2 separate regions of the Homo sapiens genome follow, and region 2 is linked to region 1. Evidence: fine-mapped expression QTL. A gene starts in region 1. The other region holds a variant in brackets. All regions are shown on one strand. Distances are from middle to middle.

The links.
Region 2: its variant is fine-mapped to the expression of ENPP4 in fibroblasts (GTEx, PIP 0.97).

Annotation. Positions count from the first base shown.
Region 1 is chr6:46,127,863-46,133,244 of GRCh38, reverse strand. It overlaps ENPP4 (ectonucleotide pyrophosphatase/phosphodiesterase 4), which reads right to left and starts at 3,256. Exons shown (of 4, transcript NM_014936.5): 1 at 3,056-3,256. It also overlaps a transcript of CLIC5 not described here.
Region 2 is chr6:46,215,532-46,220,913 of GRCh38, reverse strand. It overlaps LOC105375079 (a long non-coding RNA gene), which reads right to left and starts at 1,609. Exons shown (of 5, transcript XR_001743802.3): 1 at 1,564-1,609. RCAN2 (regulator of calcineurin 2) reads left to right here. Exons shown (of 5, transcript NM_001251974.2): 5 at 1-178. The variant T/G (reference allele first, on the strand shown) is at 3,167.

The sequences.
Region 1 (5,382 bases):
ATACACAGAAATTTCTAGCATACACAAAGTTTTCTAGCAGCTTCAAAACACTTACACTTATCTTACTTTCTACATAGTAAAATACCTCCCTCCATTACTCCTTGTCCTTTCATCAAAATTTCTTCCAAATTAAGTCAAATTGTCCCTGTTTGCAGACGACATGATTGTATATCTAGAAAACCCCATTGTCTCAGCCCAGAATCTCCTTAAGCTGATAAGCAACTTCAGCAAAGTCTCAGGATACAAAATCAATGTGCAAAAATCACAAGCATTCTTATACATCAACAACAGACAAACAGCCAAATCATGAGTGAACTCCCATTCACAATTGCTTCAAAGAGAATAAAATACCTAGGAATCCAACTTACAAGGGATGTGAAGGACCTCTTCAAGGAGAACTACAAACCACTGCTCAAGGAAATAAAAGAGGATACAAACAAATGGAAGAACATTCCATGCTCATGGGTAGGAAGAATCAATATCGTGAAAATGGCCATAATGCCCAAGGTATTTATAGATTCAATGCCATCCCCATCAAGCTACCAATGACTTTCTTCACAGAATTGGAAAAAACTACTTTAAAGTTCATATGGAACCAAAAAAGAGCCCGCATCGCCAAGTCAATCCTTAGCCAAAAGAACAAAGCTGGAGGCATCACACTACCTGACTTCAAACGATACTACAAGTCCACAGTAACCAAAACAGCATGGTACTGGTACCAAAACAGAGATATAGATCAATGGAACAGAACAGAGCCCTCAGAAATAACGCCGCATATCTACAACTATCTAATCTTTGATAAACCTGAGAAAAACAAGCAATGGGGAAAGTATTCCCTATTTCATAAATGGTGCTGGGAAAACTGGCTAGCCATATGTAGAAAGCTGAAACTGGATCCCTTCCTTACACCTTATACAACAATCAATTCAAGATGGATTAAAGACTTAAACGTTAGACCTAAAACCATAAAAACCCTAGAAGAAAACCTAGGCATTACCATTCAGGACATAGGCATGGGCAAGGACTTCATGTCTAAAACACCAAAAGCAACGGCAACAAAAGCCAAAATTGACAAATGGGATCTAATTAAACTAAAGAGCTTCTGCACAGCAAAAGAAACTACCATCAGAGTGAACAGGCAACCTACAAAATGGGAGAAAATTTTCACAATCTACTCATCTGAAAAAGGGCTAATATCCAGAATCTACAATGAATTCAAACAAATTTACAAGAAAAAAACAACCCCATCAAAAAGTGGGCGAAGGACATGAACAGACACTTCTCAAAAGAAGACATTTATGCAGCCAAAAAACACATGAAAAAATGCTCACCATCACTGGCCATCAGAGAAGTGCAAATCAAAACCACAATGAGATATCATCTCACACCAGTTAGAATGGCAATCATTAAAAAGTCAGGACACAACAGGTGCTGGAGAGGATGTGGAGAAATAGGAACACTTTTACACTGTTGGTGGGACTGTAAACTAGTTCAACCATTGTGGAAGTCAGTGTGGCGATTCCTCAGGGATCTAGAACTAGAAATACCATTTGACCCAGCCATCCCATTACTGGGTATATACCCAAAGGACTATAAATCATGCTGCTATAAAGACACATGCACACATATGTTCATTGCAGCATTATTCACAATAGCAAAGACTTGGAACCAAGCCAAATGTCCAACAATGATAGACTGGATTAAGAAAATGTGGCACATATACACCATGGAATACTATGCAGCCATAAAAAATGATGAGTTCATGTCCTTTGTAGGGACATGGATGAAATTGGAAATCCATTCTCAGTAAACTATCGCAAGAACAAAAAACCAAACACTGCATATTCTCACTCATAGGTGGGAATTGAACAATGAGAACACATGGACACAGGAAGGGGAACATCACACTCTGGGGACTGTTGTGGGGTGGGGGGAAGGGGGAGGGATGGCATTGGGAGATATACCTAATGCTAGATGATGGGTTAGTGGGTGCAGCGCACCAGCATGGCACATATATACATATGTAACTAACCTGCACATTGTGCACATGTACCCTAAAACTTAAGGTATAATAATAATAATTAATAAATAAATAAATCTAAGACCTGAGACCATAAAAAAAAATGTCTTCCAAATTATATCCTGTAACTAATTTAAGTGGAGGTGGGGGGAAGACGCACAAGTGCAGCAGGCCTCTTAATTTCCTTAAAACAGATTGAAACAATCTCTGAGGGGAAAAAAGAAGAAATAGAAGCTCATAATACTGAAACCAGCAGTTGATATTTCACAGTAGTTGGCAAATCTTCCTTCAGACTTGGGTCCACAAGATTGCCTGATTAAGCAAAGCCCTTCTGGAGTCAGATCTGGTGTAAACCTGAATCTGCCTGTCACTAGTTGTACAATCTTGGTTGGACGCGTCCCTTCACTTCTCTGAGCCTGACTTTCGTCATCTGTAAAATGGGAATGCTATGATCTCATAGGGTGGTTGTGACAAGAAAAGGAAGCATTGTTTTTAAGTCCTTACGTGCTTTTAATCCAGCCCTTTAAAAAGGCACTTAAATGTACCTTTTATTGTTTGGTTGGCTTGTTTTCCAGGAAATTAGTTCTTAAATATCATTATCTATAATTAACATAAACTCTAATCTAATATTCAGACAGACGGATGTCGATGCCATGGGTGGTTCTCCTTTAAAACCAAAAGCCTGGCGACCCCGCCCCAGCTCCCCTCAATTTTACCCCAGACCCACCTTAGGTTCCTCCACTACCGTTCGGCTGACTTCCCTCCCTTCACACTTAACACCACAGGTTGCCTTCCCCAGCACCTGCTAATTTTTCTTTCCTCTTCCCTTCCTGGCCTCCGCCTCGGCCCGCCACCTCCCTGGCTCTTTGAGTCCCTTCGTGGACGTCCCCGCCGCGCCCCAGGGGATGTGCGTGTAGTGGGGGAGAGTGGGTCATAGGGTCTGGTCTCACCATCTCTATTTTCAAAGCCCCTAGGGGACTGGAGAGGGGGTGACATTGCCCCCCAGAACGCCGAGCGCGCGAGGCGCGTACTCACCAGCCGCCGCGGTCGCTTCTTTCCAATGCGCGGAACTCGGCGCTCGCGGCACCTGGCACTCGTGGGAAGTTGCGGGGAAGGGGGACCTGGAGGAAGAGGGGCGATGCCGAGCTCTTCCTGAGGCGCCTGCGCAGTGGCAGGCGCCGCGCCGCGGGGCACAGCCCCAACGTCCCTATCTGCGCCGCTCGGGGCGCTCCGAGTGTGCGCAGCTGCCAGGCGAGCGTCTAAGGCGCCAGCTCAGGGCTGGCTGGGACCGGGCAGCAGAGTCTGAAACACGTCCTTGGATTGGATGCTAGAACCAGCGTTGAATGTAACTTTCTTTCCGATTGGTTAGACAGGTGCTTGGAGGGGTTGTATCGGACCTAAGAGTAGAGGTTGATTCCACTCTCCCACCACGCACTTTTCGTATCATCCTAGATCTGGATGCCCTTCATGGAACCTAAAAACCAGCGAGTCCCGGAAAGGCCTCAGGCAATTGCCAAGCCGATGGCCTTCTGCCACTTAGTTAATGTGCACCTGGCAGCTTAGGTGGCCGCGGAGAAAGCAACTTTGGCTGCACCAAGGTCCGGCACAAGTCTGGAGAAGCTTCAGCCAGTTCCAGTGAGTTGGGATAAATGAAACGTGGATCTACCATAGACGTCTGTCCGTCTTACTGGATAAGCGAGCACCTTTACCGGGGAAGTTAGGTAATAGTTTACAAGTAAGGTTAAAAGCAGCACAGTGCCTGCGGCAGGGAACCAGTAATGAGTTACAGCTGAGAAATGGGTGCTTACTTTGACAGACGCGTATGTGGGATTGTGCTCCTGCTTTTAATTGGAAGGTTATTTAATAGAATAATGTAACTAAACTTTCCAACATAAAGAGCAGTTACCAAACAGAAGTAGAATTATTCGCTAACAGTTGGGTTGTCCAGGCACACTTGGCAGTGAGAGGATAGCATCTTTTTTCTTTTTATCTGTAGTGCCAAACAGAACTTGGTATAGAAGTACTTGCTAAATCACTATTGAATTTAATTGTCCCGCTTGTTAAAATGCAGGCTCCAGAAGGTATTTTCTTTCTTGTTCACTACTGTATCTCCAGCTCAAATAAAAAGTACAAATAAATTAAGAATATTAATCACATGTGATATCCTCAAGTGTTAAGTATTTAATAGCTGTAAATCCAGTACCTGGATTAGTAAACTGCAGTACTGGACCTTAGATAACAAATTCTGACGTTGGTCCCCTTGGTCTGAACCTTACAGTATAGCTATTACCAACAATCTGGAAGCAGCCATGGAGATGATTTGGCAATAGATGTATTCCGTTGATTATTAGTTTGTGCCTTGATAAATTAATTCCAGTTTTAAGTCTCAGGTTGGCCTGTGCATTGGTGAATATGGGCATCTTAGATCCATGGGCTTTCAGAGCTGGAGGGGATGGTAGTGGGTCTGTAGCTGAATCCCTAGAACCTGCAGACCCTAGAACCTGGTTTGAATACTCACTCTGTCACTCACCAGCAGAGCAATCATGGGCCAGTGTCTCAACCTATTTGAGCTTTCATTTCCTCATCTGCAAAACGCGTCTTGTTACAATACCAACCTCTTACTATCAAATGAATGAGGAAAGCGAGTAGAGTATTCAGCACAGTATCTGACACATGTTGTTTTGGGGATTATTATCATTATGACCAAAAAAGTACCCCAATTTGAACAATAGTCAGGGTAAGGCCAAGTTTTGGGGGAATTTAGGTAATGTCCAATGACATAACATTTAAGATTAGCAGAACTTAAATTTTGTGGCATTTGGGGGTATTGTGCATATCCTGTTTGTTCATTCAGTAGGTGCATATGTATGCTTAAAGGGTGGACAAAACTGAATGCCATCTAGGTCAGATGTGTGGTGAAGATAGCAGCTGGATGGGCATCAGGAGAGGACTCTCTTTATCCACTGCTACTGCCTGTGTGGCTGGGTTAAATTAGGGAGTCTCATGCCACCTGGGCTCTTGCTCTGTAAGATAAAGTGGTCAGGAACAGAGGGACAAAATGACACATAAGGACCTTTGGCCCTAAACTTTTGTTATCCTCTATATATTTACCATTTCAACCACAACCAAAATCCTGTTATAGTAAGGATATTTATCGTCTTGTGGAACAAGAAGTCCAGAGGTAAGGCAGACTTCAGGACTGGTTGAGTTAGCAACTCAACGATTTCATAATGTACTCAGTTCTTTGCAGCTTTACACTTGGCTTTTAACAGAGTAGACTTCTGGTTCCTTTAGTGGTAAATATAACTACCAGCAGCAACAGGAACCATGTAATTCATTTTTCACTTCCACTGGGTGATAGA
Region 2 (5,382 bases), 88 kb before region 1:
GTGAAAGTCAGAATCGCCTCAGCATTTCCATGACGCACATTATGCAAATCTCTTTAGCACTATTTTAAGTTTGAAAACTTTAACAATGAAGGGGAAGGGGAAGATTTCCACCAACTGAATCATTTGTGCACGTGTATAGCTCAAAGAGCTTAGACTTCAAATATATCTGGTGAATGACTCTTTGTCCATGTGGTTTAATTTCTGTGTTGTCGACCTGAGTTGAATATTCTTGAGGGGTAATTGTGGGGGACTGCATTTCAACCTAGAGTTTTTCTAAGAAGTCCCCAACGTATGGGGTTAACCCATATACCTAGGCTCTTCCTGAAAGTGGGGGAAGCTGGTTGGCAGCCCTCTCTTGGGGGAAGGGGAATTTGAGCAGGGCCTGGAGGGCAGGGTTGGCCTCTGATAAGAGGAACTGGGAGAGCTCCCTGTTTTATTGCCATGTTTCAACATCTTGGTCCTAAAAGCCATTTCAAGTGTACTAAAAACCTCTTTTAATGTCTTCCCACTCTATTCTCTTGTTAAAAGCACTATAAGAGACCTGAGTTAGCAAAAAAATTATTATTCAGGAGAAAAGCACTATCATAATCTAAATGATTAATACATTAAATGCCATTAAAATGAAGAGCTTCTGTTCATCAGATGGGTATTAGGAGAATGAAAAGGGACAGCATCAGACTGGAAAAGGATATTTGAGACACATGTAGTTGTAAAATAAATTATATCCAAAATGTAAAAAGAAAACCCTACAAATAAGGAAAACAGACAATCCATTTCTTTGATCATCAAAAAATTTCAAAGGCACTTCATACAGGCAATTCACATACACACAGACATACACAAAATACCCAGATGACCCATTAGCATTCAAAAGATGCTCAATTTTATTGCTTATCTGACAAAAGCAAATGATAATCTCAGAGCTACTACACAGATCTATCAGAATGACTAAAATTAAGTCTGGAGAAATAAAAAGTTCTGGTAAGGATATGAAGGAAGGGGAACTGTCATGCACCACTGGTGGAGTGTCAACTGGTGCTCACTTCACAGCACTGTTTGGTAATATCTGCTAAAGCTAACATGCCTCTGGGAGCAATTCACTCCAGGGCATGCACCTAGCAGATACAAGTGCACACATCTATCAAAATACTTGTACAATAATGTCCCTAGCAAAGTTGTTCATCATAGCCATTAACTGGATACAGCCCAAATGTCCTTCAACTATAGAATAAACTGTGCTATCCTCACACAAAGGAATGTCACAAAGCAATAAGACACATAAACTAGTGGTACATATATGAACATGAATAGATCGCAAAATCATATTTTGAGCAAAAAAGAAAAACTAGACATGAAAAAAATACATAGTATATGACTCCTTTTAGCAAGCTAAGAAAGTCAAAACTGGCCTATATAAATAGAAATAATAGTGGCTATTATGAAAACACTTAGGACTGTAAGGTCCCCCAACACCACCCCCAAACTAAAAAAAGTGCTAAGAGTCCAAAGAAGGACTCAGACCTAAGTCCAGCATGAGGAGTAGATGAGTTTATTAGGACTTACATACGGGGCACTCTGGGATGGCGGCAGGATAGCTCTGGAGATCTGCCCCACCTCCCATCCATAAACTGCTTTTAAGCTAATTTCCTGGCTCTTTGCCTACGTGTTTGAACAATGAGACTGTTTTTCTTGGTAGTTCCTCAGAAACTCTCTGGGAGGTTTGGCTTCTCAGGGACACCTGCTCCTCAGCTCGGCACCAGGGTCTTGGCTCACTGTCCGGCCCTCAGAGTTCAGGCAACAGACTTATACCCTTCGGTAACCTGTTGGGGGACCTGTCACAGTACAGTGGCTACCTTTTGAATGGTACTGCCTGAGAGGAACCCTCTCATGTGGAAGCCTTCCAATGTGCCATCAATATTCTACATCTCGATCCTGATCTCCATATGGATGTATACCCATGTAAAATTCAGTTAAAATGTGTGCCATATACTACAGTAAGTTATACCTCAACTAAAACAAAAGCTGTTCTCCCTGAGGACAGAGAAGAAGGAGCCATTAGTTGTGATGGGGGTTTAGAATGTCCTCATACTAAAAACGTACGTCTCCCATCTCATGTCTGTGAGATATTTCCATATTTTCAAAGCCTTCATTTAAAAATCTATAAATAAGTGTTCCTTTTTAAATGAGAGAGCACAGGACTTAGGCTCTGGGTGAAACACTGTTCATTCAAGTAACAAACTGTGTGCCTGACACTGGGTTTTCAGTGGTGAACAAGGTAGCTTTTGTCCCTGCCATTTCAGGGAGTGGAGTCTAGCATGGAAAAGAGATAAGAAATAAACAAGCAAATAATGGCCACAAATTCTCATAGGTAAGTACAGTGAAGAAAACCAAAAGTACTCTATGAGAATAGAGAATAAAAGTGGAGGATCATAGTCAGGGAAGGCCTCTCTAAAGAGGTAACATTTAAGCCGACCTGGAGGCACTGGCCATGGAAATGCTGCGAGAAAAGCATTCCAGGCAGCAGGGCTGAAGGCTGTGACTCTGGAAAGGCCTTGTCTTGTCGTGTTGGAGGAGCCTGAAGGATTTTGTTGGTATGGCTGAGGCACAGGGAGTGAGGGTGAGCACAGTTTAGGATGAGGTTGGAAGGCAGGTGGCGGAGGAAGGCAGGCTCAGTAGAACCTATTATTAATAGGCCAGGCTAGGGGGTTTGAGTTCATTTTAAGGGTTTCAAAAAGGGAATTATATGACCCAATTCATTGGTAAATCCTAACACAAACAAGAAGTTTCCTAATACAAAGCTACAGCCCAAAATGTCCAGATCCTCTGTAGCACTGGGGCTTGACGGGTCTTGCCCACATTAGGCTTGAAGATAGCTTTTGATAGCCTCGTGCTCCTCACTGCAATCCTATCTATTAACACCAGAAGAATTCTCAATATCCAACATCAATATGCAGTGTCTTGTGGTTCTAAAGTTTTTTTTTACTTCCCCTCCCCACGTCATTTAGAAAGCCTCAATGCAGAAAAAGGGGAACAGAGCAGGTGATAAAGGATGATAAGTCAGTCAGTGATTCAGGGAAACATTCATTTAGCTGCTGGTACAGAGTGTCCCTGCCAGAAGCCACCACGCTGAGCGTCATTGAACATTTGGCAGCCTTTCCCCTTAAAT[T/G]TATGCAATCTGAGAAAGGGAAAATTTCAAGCAAAAAGTTTTCTGTCAAGCTCATTCATCTGCACCTTTCAAAGAAAGTCTGGGCAAATGTTTTTGGAGTTGATTCATGAGCTTTTTATGTCTCTAAAAGGAAGCCATATTTAAGGTTAGTCGTGTGTATGTGTACGCAAGCACATTTGGTACAGGTTGGAAATAGGAAATCCAAAATAGGCAGAAATGGATGAAACACTTTGTGCTAAAAAATTCATCCACAATACCTCCTTGGTGCTTTTGTGTTATTTTCCATTCTCAACCAATAATTGAGTTAGAAAACTTTTAGGGTTGGACAGGACTATGGGGCCTCCTTGACTAGTTGCTATCATTAGGAAAATCATTACTGTTCCCCAAACAATCTTTGGATTTGCCAGTAGGGTATTTTATTCTTAAAACAAGATTTATAGTTTCCGTACAAAGCTGCCAAGTTCAACACCTTGATAATCCATCTGATGTGCTGTTGTGGATGCTGTAGTCCCAGTTCCCCACTTCAGAGTCCCAGCTCCCCACTTCAGAGTCCCAGCTCCCCACTTCAGAGTGGAAACACTCATGCCCCCAGATGTTAGGAAGGTTGGTGGGTCATGACTCGCTGCTGAGTGGCCAGGCATTGCACTCAGCTGGAGAGATGCTCCCCACCCAAGGTCTCACCCTCCTCAGGGACAGCCTGCATCCAGTGACTAGTCAAGGAAGGCCTTCCCTTGGGCCACTCCAGCTCCAGAGCTATCCCTGTGGGATAGGCTGAGGCCCGGTATTTCAGTTCAACTCTGCCTTTATCCCCAACAGGTAAGGACTCTAAAGTCTCCCTAGTAAACCTCCTGCATGTACATCTCCCTCTCAGAGTCTAAGTCCTAGAAAAACTAACCTGACACTTACATCATCCTCAATAGCTTCTTCCATCACTTTGAGCGCCCCGGAATTGTACAACTCTTTTCCATCAATCGCTGCTGTTTCATTCTTAAGATGGATTGGTTATGCTAGGGGTTAGCATATTTTCCAAAAGCAGTGCAGCAAAGTTCTTCATGCTTTCTTTGTGCTGTCCTGCTGAGTTCAGGTCAGGGGTAGGTAGGGTAGACGTGCAGGTGACTTGGCACAAAGTTCCTCAGTGGAGAAAGGAGGGCTTCTCTCAACCATCCCTGTGGAGTGAGGAGGACAATGGATGCCTGTTCAGCTGTTGTCAGGAGCCTTCATGAAAAACACGGGTCTATAACAGGGAGGGTAGAACCCAAATTCTGGCCCATGTGCCACCCTCAGGCCACCTCAAAAGATGTCACCACCTCCCTGTCAACCTTGTATATGAGAAAGGGATGAAGATTGTGCAAGCGACTTTAGACAAGTTACTATAGTCCCTACAACTCAGTTTCCTCTCCTGTAAAATGGGCATAAAAATCCACTTTTGTCATGAGGACTTAATAAGATAATAACAGTAACAATTATTATTGGAGGGCCGGTTAATAACTACATTCACAAGTTTTGCTGCCACAAGACCTAGGTTTAAACCCCAGCTCTGCTGCTTGGTAAACTTGTGGTCTTGGACAGTTTTTTTAAACCTAAGTTTTGGTTTCCACATTTATCAAAAGTAAAGGATGATAGTATCTGTCTCAGAGAGTTAGGAGGGATTGAATGAGAAAGAGTATCAAGTGCTGGGTACATAGGAAGTCCTCACCCAGAGCTCTTTATGCATCAGGCCCCACACAGAGCACCTGGCATTTGTACCCTCAGTCTTCATGATGGCACCTTCACTGTTTCCATTCTTCAGAAAGAATAGTCAGCATTTTTTGAGTGCTTACACCGTGTCAAGAGCTCTTAAAAGTTCTTTACATTCTTTTTTTTTTTTTTTTTTTTGAGACGGACTTTTGTTCTTGTTGCCCAGGCTGGAGTGCAATGGTGTGATCTCAGCTCACCGCAACCTCCGCCTCCCAGGTTCAAGAGATTTTCCTGCCTCAGCCTCCCCAAGTAGCTGGGATTACAGGCATGTGCCACCATGCCCAGCTAATTTTATATTTTTTAGAAGAAATGGGGTTTCACCATGTTGGTCAGGCTGCTCTTGAACTCCCAACTTCAGGTGATCCGCCCTCCTCGGCCTCCGGAACTGCTGCGATTACAGGCTTGAGCCACTGCACCTGGCCAAGTTCTTTACATTCTTATTTAATTCTCTCTATGCTCTTATGATGAAGGCACTGATA